Linked DNA regions of Homo sapiens: region 2 is linked to region 1. Evidence: fine-mapped QTL for protein levels in blood plasma. Region 1 holds a variant in brackets. A gene starts in the other region. All regions are shown on their reverse strands.

The links. PIP is the chance, under the fine-mapping model, that this variant and not a neighbour inherited with it causes the effect. Protein levels are from antibody-based Olink assays in UK Biobank. Linkage for the fine-mapping came from a reference panel and not from the study's own genotypes, which makes the PIPs less certain.
Region 2: KRT5 starts here. The variant in region 1 is fine-mapped to the plasma level of the KRT5 protein (UK Biobank, PIP above 0.99).

The regions. Positions count from the first base shown.
Region 1 is chr6:160,701,877-160,711,176 of GRCh38, reverse strand. It overlaps PLG (plasminogen), which reads right to left and starts at 8,933. Exons shown (of 19, transcript NM_000301.5): 1 at 8,824-8,933; 2 at 4,635-4,770; 3 at 3,371-3,477; 4 at 1-100. The coding sequence starts at 8,872. The variant T/C (reference allele first, on the strand shown) is at 4,708.
Region 2 is chr12:52,519,379-52,528,678 of GRCh38, reverse strand. KRT5 (keratin 5) reads left to right here and starts at 8,285. Exons shown (of 9, transcript NM_000424.4): 1 at 8,285-8,937. The coding sequence starts at 8,383. RefSeq lists enhancers at 5,413-6,378, 9,198-9,300.

The DNA.
Region 1 (9,300 bases):
GAAGTGGAACTCCATTTTTGACAGGTGATGCCATTTTTTGTTTTGGACATCGTCCCTCTGTAGTTCTTTCCATTCCCAGTCTTGCACTCTGAGAGATACACTGAAGGGAAGTCCACACAGTGGTCAAAGTCTTTCACAAGACACCACATGAAGGTCTGCACAGCATAGTCACGTTGAGAAAAAGATCTCATGCACCAGACCCCCTGTTTCTGCTTTCTAAAAGATCATCTTTTGCATCTGCAAAAAGGCTGCAGTAAACTGAGCCATTCTTTGATTCATGTATTCAAATGCTACTTATGAGCTCTCTGTGTATCGAGCCCCACCAGGATGCTGGGGACACACGGGGCACAGTGCAGCCAGAGGCTTGGCCGTCATGGAGCTTACATTCTAGTGGAATCAGGCAGGGGGGTTACAGGAAATATTCAAGGAAACAATATAAAATGAGATCACTTAATGATGATACATATTACATACATGATGAGACAGAGTGAGAGAATGGGGAAAGGGCTTTTTAGATGGGGGAATGGCAGGCTTTTCAGAGGCTGAAAGAGATCCAACCCACTTCTATTTCTTCAGGCTCCCAGTGATATGAAAAAGTGCCAAACAGGGCTATAAAATTGTGGTCTACTGTAAATGGTTTGCAGTAAAAGTTCTCAACCAGCTTCCACTCAACCAACTCACCAGTTAGACAACGGGCCCTCTCCTGTGTTTAAAACAGTCCGGTGCCCACCTGGGTCCACATGCAGCTGGCAGGTGTTTGCTAGTGTGCCCACCCATGTCTGTTCCCCCCACGTGAGTTATGTGCTTACAACGAGTCATTTCTTTGCATTTTCCAACTTTCTTACATTTATATTTAATTAAAGATGATCTAAACTGAGAAATGAATGTGAAAAGAAACAAAGCTCTTTTTTGTTTGGTTTTTAACTAAATTAAATGTTTTTAACAAGTTGAAACATGAATCATTTAAAAAATTGCTATCAAATCCACAGAGGGCAATCCACTCATATAGTTGACTATAAAGCTTGAGGAGGAATTCATAAAAATCTAAAGGTTTTACACATTCAGATTGATTAATAAATGTCGAGATATGGTCCACTTCAAAAATAAGGAAAGTAATTATTGTAGATGTTGCACTGGAGCATAGTTTATGCAGGAAATACACCAGAGACCTTCTACTGGTGACCCCATATTCGAAGAAGAAAAGCCTCTGCTCTACGTCAAAAGGTGTCAAGTACACTTGTGTTTTCAATGAAAATATAAAATGTTTAAGGTATATTTACACCATCATTTAAGGTTACCCACTTTAGCCATTTTTTAATTAATTGATCAATCACATGGGGAAAGTGCTCCTAACATACCTACAGCAAACTAATGCTTTTAACCCAATACTGCGTATTATGATTGCAAGTACATCTTCATTGGGACATAGTATTACAGTAGACATAAGACACTCATCAAAAGTGTAAACTCAAGGTACTTTGTGAAAGGGAGGTCTAGGGGTCAAGGAAGATTTGCAAAGGACATGATGATTGAGCTGACACCTAGGAGATAAGAAGGAGCTGGCACAGCAGGACAAAGGTGAAGAGGGTCCCAGGCAGGAGGGTGTGTGCTTGGGGTGGTGAAGGAACAGAAGTAAGGCCAGTGTAGAAAAGTTTAGCAAGCCAAGCAAACAGCAGCTGGGGGTTACTTAAATAATGCTGGGCCCTAGCACATTTGGGAAGTCTTTGGGTCTTATTTTAAGGGCACTAGGAAGGGCTTTAAACAGGGAAGTTACATTTCTTAGAGATCATGTGTACAGCTACAAGTAGCCCCAACCAGTGGTGATAGGGTCTTGGACTTGGTGAAGGCAGTGTGGCTGGTGGCAAGTGGCAGAAGTAAATGTGATCTAACACTGACTGTTCCTGGCAAAACCCTGGCAGGTAAGTTAGTAGCAGGTCAATATCCCACAGCAAAGAAACAAGGACCAAAAAATGACTGACTTTTGACTTTTCACTTCTTTTTTTTTTGTATGTACCCATCAGAGTTTATATAACCTTTTGCTCCCTTCTGTCACTTTGAAAACAAGCAAACTAAGCCTTCAAACTTCAGACTTCAAACTCAACCTACAGTCATTCCCATGTTCCTTCTGGTTAACAATTTACAAATGACATATTTAAATGTTAGCATTTTGTAGAGAGAATCAGGAGAATCAGGGTTTTTTTTTTTTAAAATCTGGTACAATTAGGTGATCCTATTTAGTTTACCGTTTGCTTGCTACTTGTAAGAACTAATAACTTCACCAGATAAAGTTTAGATTTAATCTGCACTTTAATCTCAAGAATTCGAGATAAATAGTGGTAAGGAAGGAAGTACAATGCGTACAGCTAATGAAACCCAGGAAGATGAGTCAATGCATAGAAATAATTCCAACCCAAATAAATACTATTTAAAATGCTACTTAGAGTTTTGCCGTAATACTAGACACAATATGGCAAATCATCCTCAAGAATACAAGAACTAAGGTGTTTCCAGTCCTCTTTAACACCTGGGATGCAGAATGTTTGGAGAGCTAAATTGTTACTATTAACAGTCTTAATACCTGGCTACCAACACAGTAGAGGAAACAGTTTTTAAAGTGTCATGCATCCCTTCAAATATTTATACTTGATGGGATATGCTTAATGGGAGCATACTTGATGGGATATACTTGATGGGAAATGCTTAATGAAACATTTGCACATCTAAAAAGGCATGCAATTTCTATTGAAATCCTGTCTGCCTCTTATTCTAAGCAGTGGGACTATTGACCCACATTTTAAAATAAACTATAGAAAAGGAACTGTAACTTTTACACATTTTTAAAAGACAACATTTCAGAAATCTGAGAAAAATATAGACCATGTCCCCCAAAATGTGAAAAATTTAAGAGTAAAAATAAGATTTGTGTCCCAATCTAAATGTTTCTGAGGATTAAAACACCTCAGTATTTCTGTTTTACAAGGCTTCATCCAGATGTTAGGGCCCAAGGACCATGGTCACCCTGCAGAATAAGAAGCCAAGACCAAAAGGAATGCTTAGACTTCCCATCTCCTTGTTAAATATAAAATAATATTTTAAAAATCTTATTTTCAGGGTCATAGAGGTAGAAGTGATTTTGTAAATCTAATCCTTTCATCTTTTGAACAAAAAAAATTAAATCTAAGAGGTGAAGTAATACACTCAAGCTGACATGGTTAGTTAGTAATCAAATCCTGTCCTAACTCAGAATTCAGTTTTATAACACGATAGTGCCTTCCTCCTCTGGTCTTATAAATTAAAGATAGAATAGAGAAAGAGGAAGAGTGGGAGGATGGGGAGGACAGTAGGAGGAGGAGGAAGAAAATGTACTCACCTTTCTTTTCAAATAAAACTACATCTCTCATCCTAATGATTATGGAGGACTTCCTGTTTTCAGCCATTATCACACATTGTTGCTCTTTACTGTGATATTGGAATGCCCTGCAGAACGAAGCAGGAAATCCAATAAGTATTTTTCTTTATTTAAAGAAAACAAATGTTTATTAATAAGTGAGACATGCTAAAGATCATTGAATATCTTGAGGGACCAGAGAGCTCAGAATTGCTGCCTCTTTCAGTTATTTGGGCATGGCATCGATGAAGTACTGAACAAAATACACCAACGTGGCAGCAAATCTTATCTGCCCTTACCTTCCCTCCCTCATAATTTTCCCTTTCTTCCTGTTTCAACTGCTTTACTTCTTCTTCACTCATCTTCTTAATTTTTGTTTTTGGGTTGGAAAGAAGCAACTCTGGTTGCTTTGAACCCATTCGCCAAGATAGTCCGTCTCCATGACCTCCCAACTCTGATCAGTTCCCCTGAACCTCTGCTCCACATTCCACCCCACCCTGGCCCCTGACCCCTCCCATCTCCATCCCGTGGTCCTGCTATGGGTGCTCAGTCTGGATTCCATAGCTACCTTCCCAAGCCCGTCACCTACACAAAGTCTCTGCTTTAGTCAACTTCATCTCTTAATGGTCCCCCTCAGAAGGTGCAGGGCCGCATCTTCCCCTGCCTTCCTGGTGCTTGTCAAGAGCTCTCTCAACTCCAAACCCAGCTCAGTTCCCACCTCCTCCCTGAGCCTTCTCTAGCTGCCTCAACCTTAGGCACTGTTCTTTCTTCTGGATCTGGGTAGAGCATGCATTGATTATGCCTGTACCTCACTTGGGCTGTCTTTTTTTTTTTTTTAACATTATATCCAGTTTCTTTGACTACACCTTAAATACTAAAGGGCAGGCACTGGATCTTGTAGCTATAAGTCATTGCTCAGATCTATCTAGGACACTTTCATTCACCTGATCCTCAACAAACATTTACTGATGATGATGTTGAAAACTGGAGCTCAGAACAATAACTGCTAATGTTTGTGTCCGGTGTAAAAACAAATAACTTCCTTTGAGGGTATTTTTCTAACAAAGACTCCAATAAACCTTAACAAGAAGCTGTTAGTATGGCTTCACATACTGTGAGCAAATATAGTTCCAAACTCTGGCTCCATAAATTTCTCTTTCCTCTTAAATCATTAATAAATTTGTGAGTAAATTACTTGCCATCTGAATTACAGATTCCTGCGTAGGTGCAACGACAATGGAAATACCTGCAGGTGAATTCTTCGTCCTCCTCACATTTTGCTGCACATTCTTCTATACTTCCTGCTCCCAGCTGCTTCT[T/C]AGTGACACTGAACAGTGAAGCCCCCTGGGTATTCACATAGTCATCCAGAGGCTCTCCTTGACCTAGAGGTGGGAGATCCAAGTGGAATAAATGGTCAGTAAATCAATGTCAATGTCTAATTGTCATGACTTCCTTTTAATCTATTTGGTTAGCATTAACCAAATAAAACTTTCTGTTTACTGGAAGTAGAATGGGTAGCTATGAATCAAAATGTTTAGTTAAGAACACACAGTCGGGCATTTGGACATAAATAAAGATGGCAACTAAAGACACTGGGGACTACCAGAGAAGGGAGAGAGGGAGCAAGGCAAGGGCTGAAAAACTACCTATTTAGTAGGTATTTAGCTCACTACCTGGGTGATGGGATCATTTGTACCCCAAAGCTCAGTGTCACGCAATTTAGTTATGTAACACACCTGCACATGTACCCCTGACTCTAAAAGTTGAAATTATAAAACAAAGAAAAACAGTTTCATTAGCAGATTGCAAGATAGTAAAAGATTAACTGGATTGACAAACAGGTTAGAACTATGGAACCACTACTATGTTACCATATTAGTGGATATAAATCCTTAAACAAGAACAAATTTTATGTTTGCTATTGATTGTGCCATGTCATGAGAGAAGAGTAAGGCACCATCAGTGGCAGTTGTGTTACCAAGATTGATGTTGATTTGTTCATCCCTGGGTAGAAATGGAACTTGGAGGCCATTGTTTGATTTCCTACAATATGCGCTTTGGTTCTGGCACTGTCACTTGAACCGGTGGGAAGCATCCTCTGAATGGTCCCTCCTTGAGAAACATAAATTTTGGTGCATAGATGATGGTGGAAATAAACAAGAACTGAACTAAATTATGTTGCCACCTTGGACAAAAATTGGGCAAAACACTGGAGGGTAAGAAGCTCCCCAACAAAGAAGGCCATTTTTGTACTGGGCTTATGACAGTCACACAACACTACTAATTGGGGAGAAGTCAGTTTTTCCAAGGTGTTGACAGGTATCTGGATTTCGGAGGAAATTGTAAAAAAGCAGGACCTGGGACAAATACTGGTCTTGGTTTTTCTTTGAGATCAAATCTGAGACAACGAATCTGTCCGAAAGCTGCTTTCTGCCTGGTCGTGGCAGAGGGTGGCCAAGGGGGCCTCAGCTGTGCTCCCACCACAAGGCTACAGGGTGTCCCCTTGTCCTGAGGCTCTTCCAGACATCTGGCTGAGCTTTGGTAGCTCTATTCCAAGCCTGGAGATGCCAGCTCCGTCCTTGGCACAGAATGCTAGTGATTTGCACAAGGGTGAGAGGCCAAAAGAGGCTAATAAAATGAAGACAGGCAAGCTCCATGGAATTAGACAACAGGACAACCTTGACCACTTTGAGGGGCGTGGTGGGGGCCGCAGGCAGAGGGGGTGGGTTACAGAGTGACTAGGAGAGCAGTGGAGGCTGCAGCAGGAGACAAGCCTGGCTCTGAAGACAGCGAGCCCTCCAGGGAACATGCGGTCAGGGGAGGTTCTGAAAGATGACACACTGCAGAGCGCATTGGTTTGTATGCTGATGACAAGTATCCAGTAGGAAAGCAAATGAACAGATTTTCATTCTCAGAAAGGCCTGTCCTGACCTCCTGAGGGTACACAGAGCACAAGGGGCAGGACAGGGAGGTGGATGCATGCTCATCGATTCATGCAAAGTCCTCGGCCAAAGTCCCCCTGCTCCCCACCTCTGGGACTTTGTCCTTCCTCAATTTAAGACATTCCGGGCTGGAAAAATGGATTATTGAGCAGGAGTTGGCTGATGCATTCTAAAGCTAATCCACTAAAAAGCACTTGAGAGATATATCAAAAGATCACAAAGAAATAGATGCTTTAGGCCCATATCCATGTCTTTACCCCGCACTTTCTGCCAACTTGAACTCTCATTTTCAAGAAGAGTTGTGTTTTGGTTAATTCTATATAGCTCACAGTGTGACTTCAAAACACACAATAAATCCACAAAGTGTGTCCTACAGTGAGTTCAGTTAAACTTTCTGAAGAGTTTTTTTGAAGTATAGCAGAGCAGGCTACAACTGATATTCAAAAAAAGAAAACTTCCATTTATTTCCCCCTTCAATTAAGTTCTCTGTGTTATGTTACTATGCTTCATAGCGCATCGCTGCTGAGATCCCCTCCCCAGCTCATGTCCCTAGGAAATATCCCAAAACAGAATCAAACTTTTCTCTTTTCAGTTTGAAATAATTTTCCCCCATTTTTTCTTCTCTTATTCACCTCTAGGACTCATATGGCAATAGGATTTGATAGGGCTTATTTGCTGGCAAGGAAACATCAAACAAATCTTTTAGTGGAAAAATACATTTATATTATAGGCAAAATGCAGATGTATATTGCTACTGATGCAAATGTATTTTATTAATGGTGTGAGAATTTCTTCCTCACTGTGGTGTGTGAATGTGTATGCATATTTGCATGTGTAAAAGACTTAATTTGTGAAATGGAAGATGTTTCTCCACTTCCCACTAAGCATGGCTGTAAAAGAAACTTTTCCCTCTCCCCGGGCATTGCAGCACACTGGAAAGATGATACATCCACAGAAAACCTGGCTTTCCAAAAGAGCTTATGAGAGAATGTGCCCACCAGGTGGGTTAAAACATATGTTAATCCTGTGGCAGAGAAGTTTGATCTAGCCTTTGGGTGTAGCCCACTGAATAAGTTCATAGTGATCTATGTCCTAGTTTCCATGCATTGAAATATAATATTCATACCCCCCAACATACACCAATTTCTTACAAAAATTTCTTTAATTTTCTCCTGCTCTGTATTTTCTTTGATAGCTCCTTGAATGGCTTCCACTAAATTCAAATGTATTTGACTCTAAAGTGCAACTTGTAAAATTTTATCTGGTAATTTATAGATTGAATTTCAAGCGTACATTATTTACATGAAGAACTACTAGCAAATCGTATGATTCCGTTTGTATGAAATGTTCAAAATGGCAAAGATATAAATACAGAAAGTAGATTAGTGGTTGCCAGAAGCTGCAGATTGGGGGTAACAGCTAAGGAGAGTGGAGTGCGTTTTTGGGGGTATGAATAGTTTTAAAATTTATTCTGATGGTGGCTGCACAACTCTCAATATCTTGAAATCCATTGGATTGTATGCCTAAATGGGTGAATTCTATATGTTAATTATATCTCAATAAAGCTTTTTTTTTTTTAAAGAAAAAGAAGTACTAGGACATGTTTAGAATATTCTTTCAAAGGCTTAAACAAAGCTGAAAAGTGAGAAGAGCCCTAGATTCCTTCTGGGAAACCTGGCTTAAATCCAGTTTTCTTTATTTCCCAGATCTGAGAATTTGGTCACTGAGCAAATAACATGATATTCCTAAGTCTGATTTCTTTGTTTATAAAATGAGGATGAATATGCTACCCTACCTATACCACGAGCTAAATAAGCTAGTATTTGTAAAGGATACACACTCACACTCACATTCACACACAGGTATGTATGTATGTGTAAAAATGTAGGGACCTAACCCAAGCAACTGAGTATTTGTTGATCACTATCTGCACACAGCATCTGGCAAATGGATGCGTGTGATTTTTCCGGGGATAAGAGGCAAACGTATACTGATGGAAAGCCTTCCTCAGGCCATAACAAAGGGAGAAATGCTGAGTCCCCGACCCTGCCGCCACCATGAACTGGTGAGAGAACGGAATATATTCAAAGAGATATTTCACTGTTTTAACTTGCAAGTGAGGGGAGCATGACACCGTAACAGAGATGATATAAATTAGTCAAACTGAGAACCAGGCAAAGAGCTTAGCCGTCCTTTGCATAATTAGCTACATTGGCTCTTTTTCAATTAGACTGGCCATTATGTGGGTGCACTCATTTAGATTTGAAAAATCACCCATTATTTTCTCTGCCCATTCATTCCAGCACCCTGACAATCTTCACAGGAAACTTAAACTTATTTCTTGAAGAATTCCTCAATCTTATACAAGATTTTCAACTGGAAGTTTCATGAATCAAAAATTAAATGAATTGCACATAAAGCCATGGCATATGTATTTTTACTACATTGTGGGAGAAAAAATAATTCTTATAATTTAAAAAAACTATGTCTTACCTGATTTCAGAAATAAAAGAAGTAGAAGAACCACTTCCTTATGTTCCATTTTGGGACTGGCCAGCAGTGCCCAGAAAGTGGGTCCCAATCCCAGGATGTTGTTGACTTACATGAGAGTAAACGCATCCACAAACCAGATAGTCAAATTAAGTTAATGATTCTCTCAGAGACCCATGCCACTGGCTCAGCAGGGTTCAAACATTACCTTGAATAAAGAGTCCTTACAACATGTTTGAGGGTGGAATCTGCAATAGATGCTGGGAAGTGGTGAAAGCAATCTCCCCCCTCGGCTGCTCCACGCTGCCGTCATGTCTCCTTATTCCTTCCCTCACCCTTGTACTTTATCTCTCGCAATTAGTCTTATTTCCTCCCCTCTTCTCTTATTCCCTTTCTTTTGGAGAAAATGAAATCATAAAAGTATCTCACATTTGCTGGAACCTTCCATGACGAGACCCTCTGCCAAGCGCTGCACGTCCA
Region 2 (9,300 bases), not on the chromosome of region 1:
GAGAGCTCGCAGCTACATCTTGCAGGGGGCATTGTGGCATTGATGACCCTAGTGGTACCCCCAGAATTTCTTCCTGGGTAGGGCTTGGGGCTTAGAGGTGGCGATCTGGTTAGGAGGGGCGGTGGCATGGCAGGTCTGTGTCAAAGCTGGTTTGCAGAGGAGCATACCATTTTGTTTAAGTGGCATGTCTATTTGCGTGACTTCAGTATATGGGCTGCTGATGTTGCTGACGGGGATACTGGCTCTTCAGGGTCCCCTCAGCAATTCCCCTTATGTGCTGATTGAGAGCATAAGCTCTAGGAGCAGCCAGACCTGGGGTCAAATTCCAGTTTTGACAAATATTATCCATATGAGCTTAGGTAAGACATGTTCCTTTCTGAGGCTCAGAAAACGGGACAAATAGTAGTGCTGATCACCTGTGGATGAATATGGATGAATAGTAAGTAAGATAACGCATGCTACATTTTGGCACAATGTCAGGCACACAGTAAGCACTCAGTATCCATTCACTTCAAAGAAGGGCTGGAGGAAATCAGGTCCAGTATCACCAAAAGCAACGAGGCTACATATCTCAGTGAATGGTGCTAATTTCTTTTCTAAGTGGGGCAGCCTCATGCAAGGAGCTGGTCAGTCTCTAAGAGGCCACAGGGTGGTTTGGCCCATCCCAAAGGATCCAAAATGCCAAATAATGCTCAGGCTGGGTTATTCCATTTCATACTCTCCTGATCATGGCCTCTGCTCATCCTGAACAAAGTGTTGCAGGGCCCTGTTTGAGTGTCTTGGCCATAAGCGGTTGTGGGGTTTGGAGAGGGGAGGAATAGAGCGAATCGCTGAAGCTTGGGCCAAGACACTGGGCTACTCCCAAGGTATTAGGAAGTATCAGCAGTTGTTAGCCACGTCTCATGCATCTGGAAGGACTGCCCCAGGAAGCATCTGGGCTTTGCCCTGGGCCTAGTGCCAGGGTAGGAGGGAGATGGGTGTCAGGCGATCCCCAGGCTTCCCCCTTGAGGACATTGTATAGGATTTTATAGGGAACCCCAATCCCCTGAGTCTTGCCCCAGAGTCTTAGTGGTCCTGCCCTGGGTTCTGGCAGTTCAGAGAAGGGAGGGGGTCTCCAAGGGCACCTCCCCTGTCTATACTCCAGGGCAGGGGTCCCTCTCTCTTGGGGCTGCTGGAAGATGTTATGGTATACTGACTGCTGAGTGGTATCTGGGGCCCTCTCTGTTTGCTGCCTTCACAGACTATCCGGAGGTTGAGGCCTCTGCTGAAGTCATCCTCTTCAGAGTCAAATCACAAGTCCTGCACTGAAAATCCAAGTGCCCACAATGGTGATGACAAGGGCTTTTGGAGACACCCTTGCCTGGGCTCTTACCTAGGCTCTGTCACTTGCCAGTTGCTTACCCTCTCAGGGCATCAGTTTCCTCATCTGCAAAACAGGGATCATATTAGGCCCACCCCACGAGGCTGTGAGGAGTAAATGAGTTGATACATCCAGAACCATGCCTGGCTCACAGTCAGTGCCACTCAAGTGTGGTGATTGCTGTCATCTTTCACCAAGCCACAGAGCACATCGAGGGCTCAGGCTCATCCCATGCTGTGAGCTTTTTGGGGATCATGAAAGTCCAGAACTTCAGAGAGACAAGCTGCCTAGAAATCGTCAGATACATCTCCACATCTCCCCCATTTGCAAGAGACTGCCAGAGAAGGCATCTGGGTCCTTGTTTCACGTTTTGTGCCAGAGAAGATGGGAGTGGGGAGGCACAGTGTAGGGAGGGAGGGAGCAGGCAGAACCAGCACTGAGCACTGACCCTCTAACATTAAATCGGGAACCGGCCGACATGGGGTTGAGGCTGTGAAGGGATCCACCTGGCTGGAGAGTGGAGGTGAGGCCGAAAGGCCCTGGGGACCAGGGACTTGTGAATGAGCAAGAAATAGTGGGAGTCCTTGACAACTGTTACAGAGGATGTGGGTTTGACTGGAGGCCCAGCTAAGTACTGTGAGGCTCTGGGCACGGGCAGAGGGAGTCATGTGTGAATTCTAACTCCTTATTATCAGCCACTGGAGTAGAGGCGATCAGCGTCTGCAGACTGGTGGGACCTCATGGCCTAGAGCAGACAAATGCCTTGGAGGAACAGGCTTCGGTGCTAACTTAGGCTTGAAGGCCAGTCTGCTCCCTGGAAAGACCCAGACCAGCACCTGGACATGAGGGCTCTGGACAGGGGAGGGGTGGGGAGCAGTAAAAACACCCTCACCCATCACAGTCACCTGTCAGCCCTGTCATGCACACAGCCCTCGGGAAATGGCTCTCTGAAGAGGACTGAGACGTGCAGCCTTGGACTGGGAGACAAGTAGGCTCTTGCTGAGGCCCAGATGGGCAGTGCAGGGCAACAACAGCGTGTGGGACAGGACCAGGACCCAGGCTTGGCTCTCACCTCACCTTGCCAAGGGCTTGGCGTTAGGCTCCACCTCCCTGAACTCAGCCTGTTCCTCTATGGATGGATCACTGGGCTGGTTTTTTTCTCTGAAACCAAGTCAGGCCAGCTTCCCTAACCCGGCCCTTGCACAGTGACCCGTCACTGTCAAGTGGTGTGGGCCACCATCCTGGGTCTGGTAAGGAGATCCTAGAGGAGACCCAGCCCTGTTCGCAGTCCTGGAGTCTGAGGGAGGAAATGGGGAAGGGTACAGGGTCACACAACCAGAGTCCAGAAGTCCAGTGCATGGCATCTGCCTTGGCCAAGTCACACATGTGGAACAGGACCTGATTCAATGACTGGCATGAATTGAAACACTCCTGCACGCTCTCTTGTCTCAGTTGCTTTTTGCACTGCGTCTCCCTTGGAAGAAGCCTTAACCTGTTTTCACAAACCCTCAACAGTGATCGTTGGTCCAAGTGGACAGTGAGCAGGTCAGTGTTCACATGTGCTCACGGAACATGAAGATGGGAGCTGCGAGTGTGTCCTGGAGTCTGAGGGAGGAAATGGGGAAGGACACAGGGTCACAGTCTCACATAGACGGTGGGACTGGGGCCAGCAAGGTGTCCCATGGCCTTGAGGACTGTGCAGATGCCGAGTGCATTTCCTGAGGGTGGCCCTGGGAGAGGCAACAGCTCCAGCCTCAATGCTGTCATTTACTTTCTTTTCTCCCTCACCATATTACCACCTTCTGTACTGATTCACCCCACCTGCCCTCCACCCATGATCAGAGCTCACCTGACTCACCCCACCTTCCCCCCACCCATGATCAGTGCTCACCCAAAGCAGGAAAGCCAGATGGAATAAGGCTCTGTCTCCGGCACTTGCCCTCCCTCCCAGGACCAGGAAGCCCTGAGCCAAACACAAACTTGGGGAGGGGGGCAGCTGTAGCGTCTCCTCTGCCTCCCCGTTCCCAGTTGTGGCTACTGGTGAGAGAACAGAAAGTAGCAGGGAGAAATGGAACAGTGGGTGAGTTGGGGATGTCAGCAAGCTTCCTTCTGCACCTCTGATGCTGCAGGGATACAACCTGGTGTAAATGAGTCATGTCTCTGCCTCTCCACTGAAGAGGGAGGCTGCAAATCCCCAGAGTATGGGACACACTGACACCTACATTGGACAGCCAAGCTGAGGAAGTGCTAAGAGCCCTTCTTTGCATGCTCTAGTTTCATATTCATATATGTAAAGTGTGCAGGGCAGTGCCTGGCACATGGTCACTCCTACGTAAGTGTTTATTTAAAAAATAAAACCACCCTCTATGAGAAAGCAAAGCGCAGAGGATTTTGCTGTATATCCTTTTTTAGTCCCTCTGACTAATTAAAGTATTTGTTGATTTCCAGCCCATAGTTTCAATCAACCAAGGGGGATTTTCAAAGAGTTTGGTGTGCCATGAGCAAAACACCTTTCATACGAGGGAAGAACATTCCTCAGACTTGCAGGGGCCTGCTGGAGGGAAGCGGAGGGCTCTGCTCTGCACCCTCTCCTGCCAGGGCCAATCGGCTGCTGAATCTAAGGGATGGGGGCCAAGGCTGCTCCCCACAGCCCCCTGCAGGCCTGCCCCTCCCTTCCTGCTCAGCCCCAGCCAGCTCAAAATTAAAATTCCAGCTTGCATGGCCCCTCCAATGAGCCCAGGCCCCTCCCTTCTCTCCCAGCTGCACTGGACAAAACTATGCAGTGAGAGGTTAGGCAACTTGCTCAGGGTCCCAGACCCATCCAAGGACTGGGTCAGGACCAACACATGGTCTGGAGTGGTGCCACATGCTTTTGCACCTATGCTGTGACCCACAATGTGTGCGAAGCCCGTGCACAAGAAAAACTCAACTCCAGGGGGTAACTTGTCACTATGACCTCAATAATGGCAGCAGGGACTCACCTCCAAAGGCCCTCTGAGCCAAGGCTGAGCAGTTGCTTTATGTCTGGACATTTGCCTTTCTACCTAGTCCGGTTTTCAGACTGGGGTCTGAAAGCCCTAGAGACATTGGGCTGTAGGAGGGAGGGGGTGGTGTGTCCAGCTCTGCAGATCCAGAGTGGCCACTCCCCTCAGGGCCCTGTGATTCTGAGAATCTAGCTAGGACCAGAGCTGGGACCCAGGTTGGGATGGGGGCAAGATTCCGCTGGCTTTGGGTGGAGGCAGGAAAATTCTTCCCTCAATTCCCCCTGAGGCTAGGGCTTTGTGAAGAGCTATCTTGGGCTGGCCCGCTGTTCCATCTGCCCTTCCCCATCCTGCGAATCTGGCTGCAGGCTCCCTGATGGGGCTGCCAACCATAGCCCAATGAATAGGGTGACTCACACCTCAACTATTGCTCCCCACTTTTTGTGCTGAACAAGCGTGAGGTGGAAGGGCTGCAAAGTTGAGGCCACTAAAGCTTTCTTTCTCTCCTGGAGGGGCCTGGGGGCTGGGGTGGCACGTGCAGGCTACTTGTTAGTGGGCTCAGATGCAGAACACCCTCAGAATAAGGGTGAGGGAAGAAGAAGGATGGAGGGAAGCCTAAGGAATAAAGAATCCTAAATGCTAGATTAAATCCTAAATCCTAAACACAGAGCATACCCAGTGTGAAGGGGACAACAGACTCATCCTGTAGACACGGACTGAGAGACAAAATCAGATGGACAAGACTCTGAGACTCAGCATAGGGCTGGAGGATTCACAGAAATATATGTGAATATATATAATGTATATACATTCTGTTATACATAGGTTGGTGTAGATATAGGTTGGTGCAAAAGCAATTGAGGTTCTTGCCATTGTGGGCTTCACATAACAATCTGGGGAAGGAGCGGAGGAAGAGGATTTTCTGTCTGTCAATTCACTCCAAAAAATATCTGCAGAACACTTCCAGTGCCCAAGGCTGGGCTGAGGGTGTGGGCCATGCAGAGATGTTCCCTAACCTTGGAGACTGCCCTGCTGGGGGGGACTTAGAGGATATGTACAAATGCTGTTTTATGGAACATGTTCTATTTATCATGCTCTATTAAATGTATCTTCTACTAAAGCCCTACAGATTGGAGTGGAGGCTCTGAGGAGAAGGAATCCTGGGCTGGGATGGCAGGATTTGCCTAACCCTTGTTCCACGAATGGATACCACCCTCTCCCTGGTGTCTGTGAAGGGCTTCTCCATGTATGAAATGCTGACCAGGTCCTACATTCCCTGCACAGCTCTGCGAGAGAGGTCAGGGCAGCCAGCTTACTGTCCTTTCTCTGATGGGGAGAGCAGCAGGGCGGGCCCTGCACTGTCTTCTGCTGACAAGGAAAGCAGCACCCAGAGGAGAAGCTGAGCAACATGTCCCACCAAGCCTGGGAACTGCCTCTGTGGGGTGCCCAGCAGGAAAGCTCCCTGGTGAGCCTAACACAATCCCTCCCTTCCTGCCACAGTGAAATTCCAGGCTGGGGTGGGACTCTCCCGAGCTGCAGTGGTGCTGGTGCCTGGCTCCCCACCAGGAGCGGCTCCATTATTTATACCTGTCCAGGTCTGGCATTGAGGGAGGGGCTGCCCTGCCTGCTCATGGGAGGATTCCCACGAAGCTCGGATAGAAGAGTGCTGCTGCTTCTCCCATGGAGCACCCACATGCTCCCTGCTCCCATGGAGCACCACACACTCACCGTTGGTCCCTGGCACATGGATCTGAGCTTGGCACACTCTAGCAATCCTCAGACTAGCCAGAACGCATTCCTGCTCTGCCAAGTCCTCTTTCTTCACAACACAGCTGGGAGGAGAATGAATGGGGAGAAGAGAATGTCCCAGTGTCTCAGGAGGGGTGGGGCTTCCCTGAGGGCAGTGAGGTCTGTACCCGGGACCTGTGAGTGTATGTGGTGGTGGGGATATACCCCGATATCGATCTTTGAGTGGAGCAGGAGCATCCCACTACGAGTCCTCAGACACTTGCTTCAGGCTTGGATCTGTTCTGTTCTATCAGGAGCCGAGGGTCCCCTGGTATGTCTCAGGCCTCCAGGACACTCACATCTGTTCTCCAGAAAGCAACCAAATGTGAAAATGGTGAGCTCAGCACAATTCATCTCTGAGGGTCTCAGAAATGCTCCAGCCAGGGAGGCCACCCAAACCATTTTGCTCAAGACCTGTAAGACCGGCTCCGGCCATTGGTCTGTCTGCCGAGATTGACCTGTCAGCTGCTTGCTCATCGCAGCCCTCTGGTGAGAAGTCACTGTTTCAGCTGATCCTCAGCACCAGGGAGTCATTTTCCCACTGCCTTGGCTTCCTTGTGGCCAACCGCAGGCCCTGGTGAGAGATTCCTGAGCCTGGGTCTGGTCCTGTTCTTCTACTCTTGAGAATATAGCCCCTCCTCCCTGAGGCTTTGAAGCCATCCCCATTGCATTCCTACCTCCAGCCTCGGGCCACAGGGCGCCCCCGAAACTCTGAACAGCCCAAGCACTGTCCTGCCTGAGAGCCCTGCTTCTATTTGGGGGACGGCAGAGAGGTGGCCCCACTCAGATCTGCTGCCAAAAAGAGTGGGTGTGGTTTAGAACAGACGTGTGTTAAAACCTCATCAGAAACCCCCTTTCCTCCACCTGGTGCCACAACCCCCCAGACAAGTTTTGCAGAGGGGATCTCAAAGGGCCCTCCCTAAAGCAGCTGGCAGATTGTCATGCCAGCTGCCTGGGCCCACAGGCCTGCTCTGGCTAGCCTTTCTGGCAGGACAATCCATAGACTTAGAATCCCGTTTTCCATTGCCTTGGCCCTGAAGGAGGCTGTGGGCTACAGCATAGAGAAAGCAGAGCAAGTCCCGCTGCTTGGAACAGGGTGGTTCGCCGTTATAACAGGCCGTCAGACTCTCAACATGTTCCTGATGAGATTAGAAGCTCCTGCAGGTATGTGTTTGTGGCGGCCTTCAGCCTGTATCAACACATACGATGACTCATTTCTTCCCTAGTGGAATAGAGCTTGCTGGAACACACCTGGGGGGCTGGGGAACCGGCAGAGTAGCTACCCCCAAAGAGAGACGCTATAGCCCATGAGTCTCAGGGTTTTTTTTTAAGGGATTGCATGGGATCCCCGGGTTTCCTAAACCCCCCACAGAGTCCTGCCCAGGCCAAAGAGCAAGGAAAAGGTCAAAGGGCAGAAAAAATGCTGAGTTAGGAGGAGCTATGGAAGGATAAACCTGGCCTTAAAGAGGTCAAAGTGGTTTATAGGGGGCGCTGAGGGCTTCCCACATTCTCTGGCCTAAACCTTGCAGGCAGATCTGCCCAGTGGGCTCTGGGATAGCTGTGCCTTCCCTAAGAAAAAAATTGTGCAGAAAAGGATGAAACTCTATTTTCCCTCTAGCACATAACCAAGAATATAAGGCTACAGATTGCCTTTCCCAGAGGGGAAAACCCTGCAGCAACCTGCTGCCTGGAAAAGTGTAAGAGCAGATCACTGGGGAATCGTTTGCCCCCCGCTGATGGACAGCTTCCCCAAGCTGGAAGGGCAGGTGCTCAGCATGTACCGTACTGGGATGGTTGTCAATACTCCTGGTCCTGTAAGAGTCCCCAGGACACTGGCCATGCCAATGCCCCCTCAGTTCCTGGCATCCTTTTTGGGCTGCTCACAGCCCCCAGCCTCTATGGTGAAGACATACTTGCTAGCAGCGTCACCAACTTGCTGCCAAGAGATCAGTGCTGCAAGGCAAGGTTATTTCTAACTGAGCAGAGCCTGCCAGGAAGAAAGCGTTTGCACCCCACACCACTGTGCAGGTGTGACCGGTGAGCTCACAGCTGCCCCCCAGGCATGCCCAGCCCACTTAATCATTCACAGCTCGACAGCTCTCTCGCCCAGCCCAGTTCTGGAAGGGATAAAAAGGGGGCATCACCGTTCCTGGGTAACAGAGCCACCTTCTGCGTCCTGCTGAGCTCTGTTCTCTCCAGCACCTCCCAACCCACTAGTGCCTGGTTCTCTTGCTCCACCAGGAACAAGCCACCATGTCTCGCCAGTCAAGTGTGTCCTTCCGGAGCGGGGGCAGTCGTAGCTTCAGCACCGCCTCTGCCATCACCCCGTCTGTCTCCCGCACCAGCTTCACCTCCGTGTCCCGGTCCGGGGGTGGCGGTGGTGGTGGCTTCGGCAGGGTCAGCCTTGCGGGTGCTTGTGGAGTGGGTGGCTATGGCAGCCGGAGCCTCTACAACCTGGGGGGCTCCAAGAGGATATCCATCAGCACTAGTGGTGGCAGCTTCAGGAACCGGTTTGGTGCTGGTGCTGGAGGCGGCTATGGCTTTGGAGGTGGTGCCGGTAGTGGATTTGGTTTCGGCGGTGGAGCTGGTGGTGGCTTTGGGCTCGGTGGCGGAGCTGGCTTTGGAGGTGGCTTCGGTGGCCCTGGCTTTCCTGTCTGCCCTCCTGGAGGTATCCAAGAGGTCACTGTCAACCAGAGTCTCCTGACTCCCCTCAACCTGCAAATCGACCCCAGCATCCAGAGGGTGAGGACCGAGGAGCGCGAGCAGATCAAGACCCTCAACAATAAGTTTGCCTCCTTCATCGACAAGGTGAGCTACGATCTTTTGTAAAAAATCACTGTGGGTCTGAAATAAATGCCAAAGAGAGAGAAAGAAGGAAGATGTTTTGGCTTTGTGCAAATACTTTTATAGTTGTACAGTTCTGTGTTTCCGTTTGTTTCTGTGCCCTGGATTTGTGGACACGTTCTGAATTAGACTGGCAGCTGGGAAGGGAGAATTATTTCTTCCCATTCAGAGGTTAGCTCACAAGGGCCTCTTAACAACTGTTGGACAGAGAGATGAATTTCATGCCATATATAAAGGGGCTGACTGTACAGGAAGGTAGACAAGTGCATGGGCAGCAGCCTGAGTGCCTTTGCAGCCACCCCTGAGCCGGGACACACTCCAAGCAGC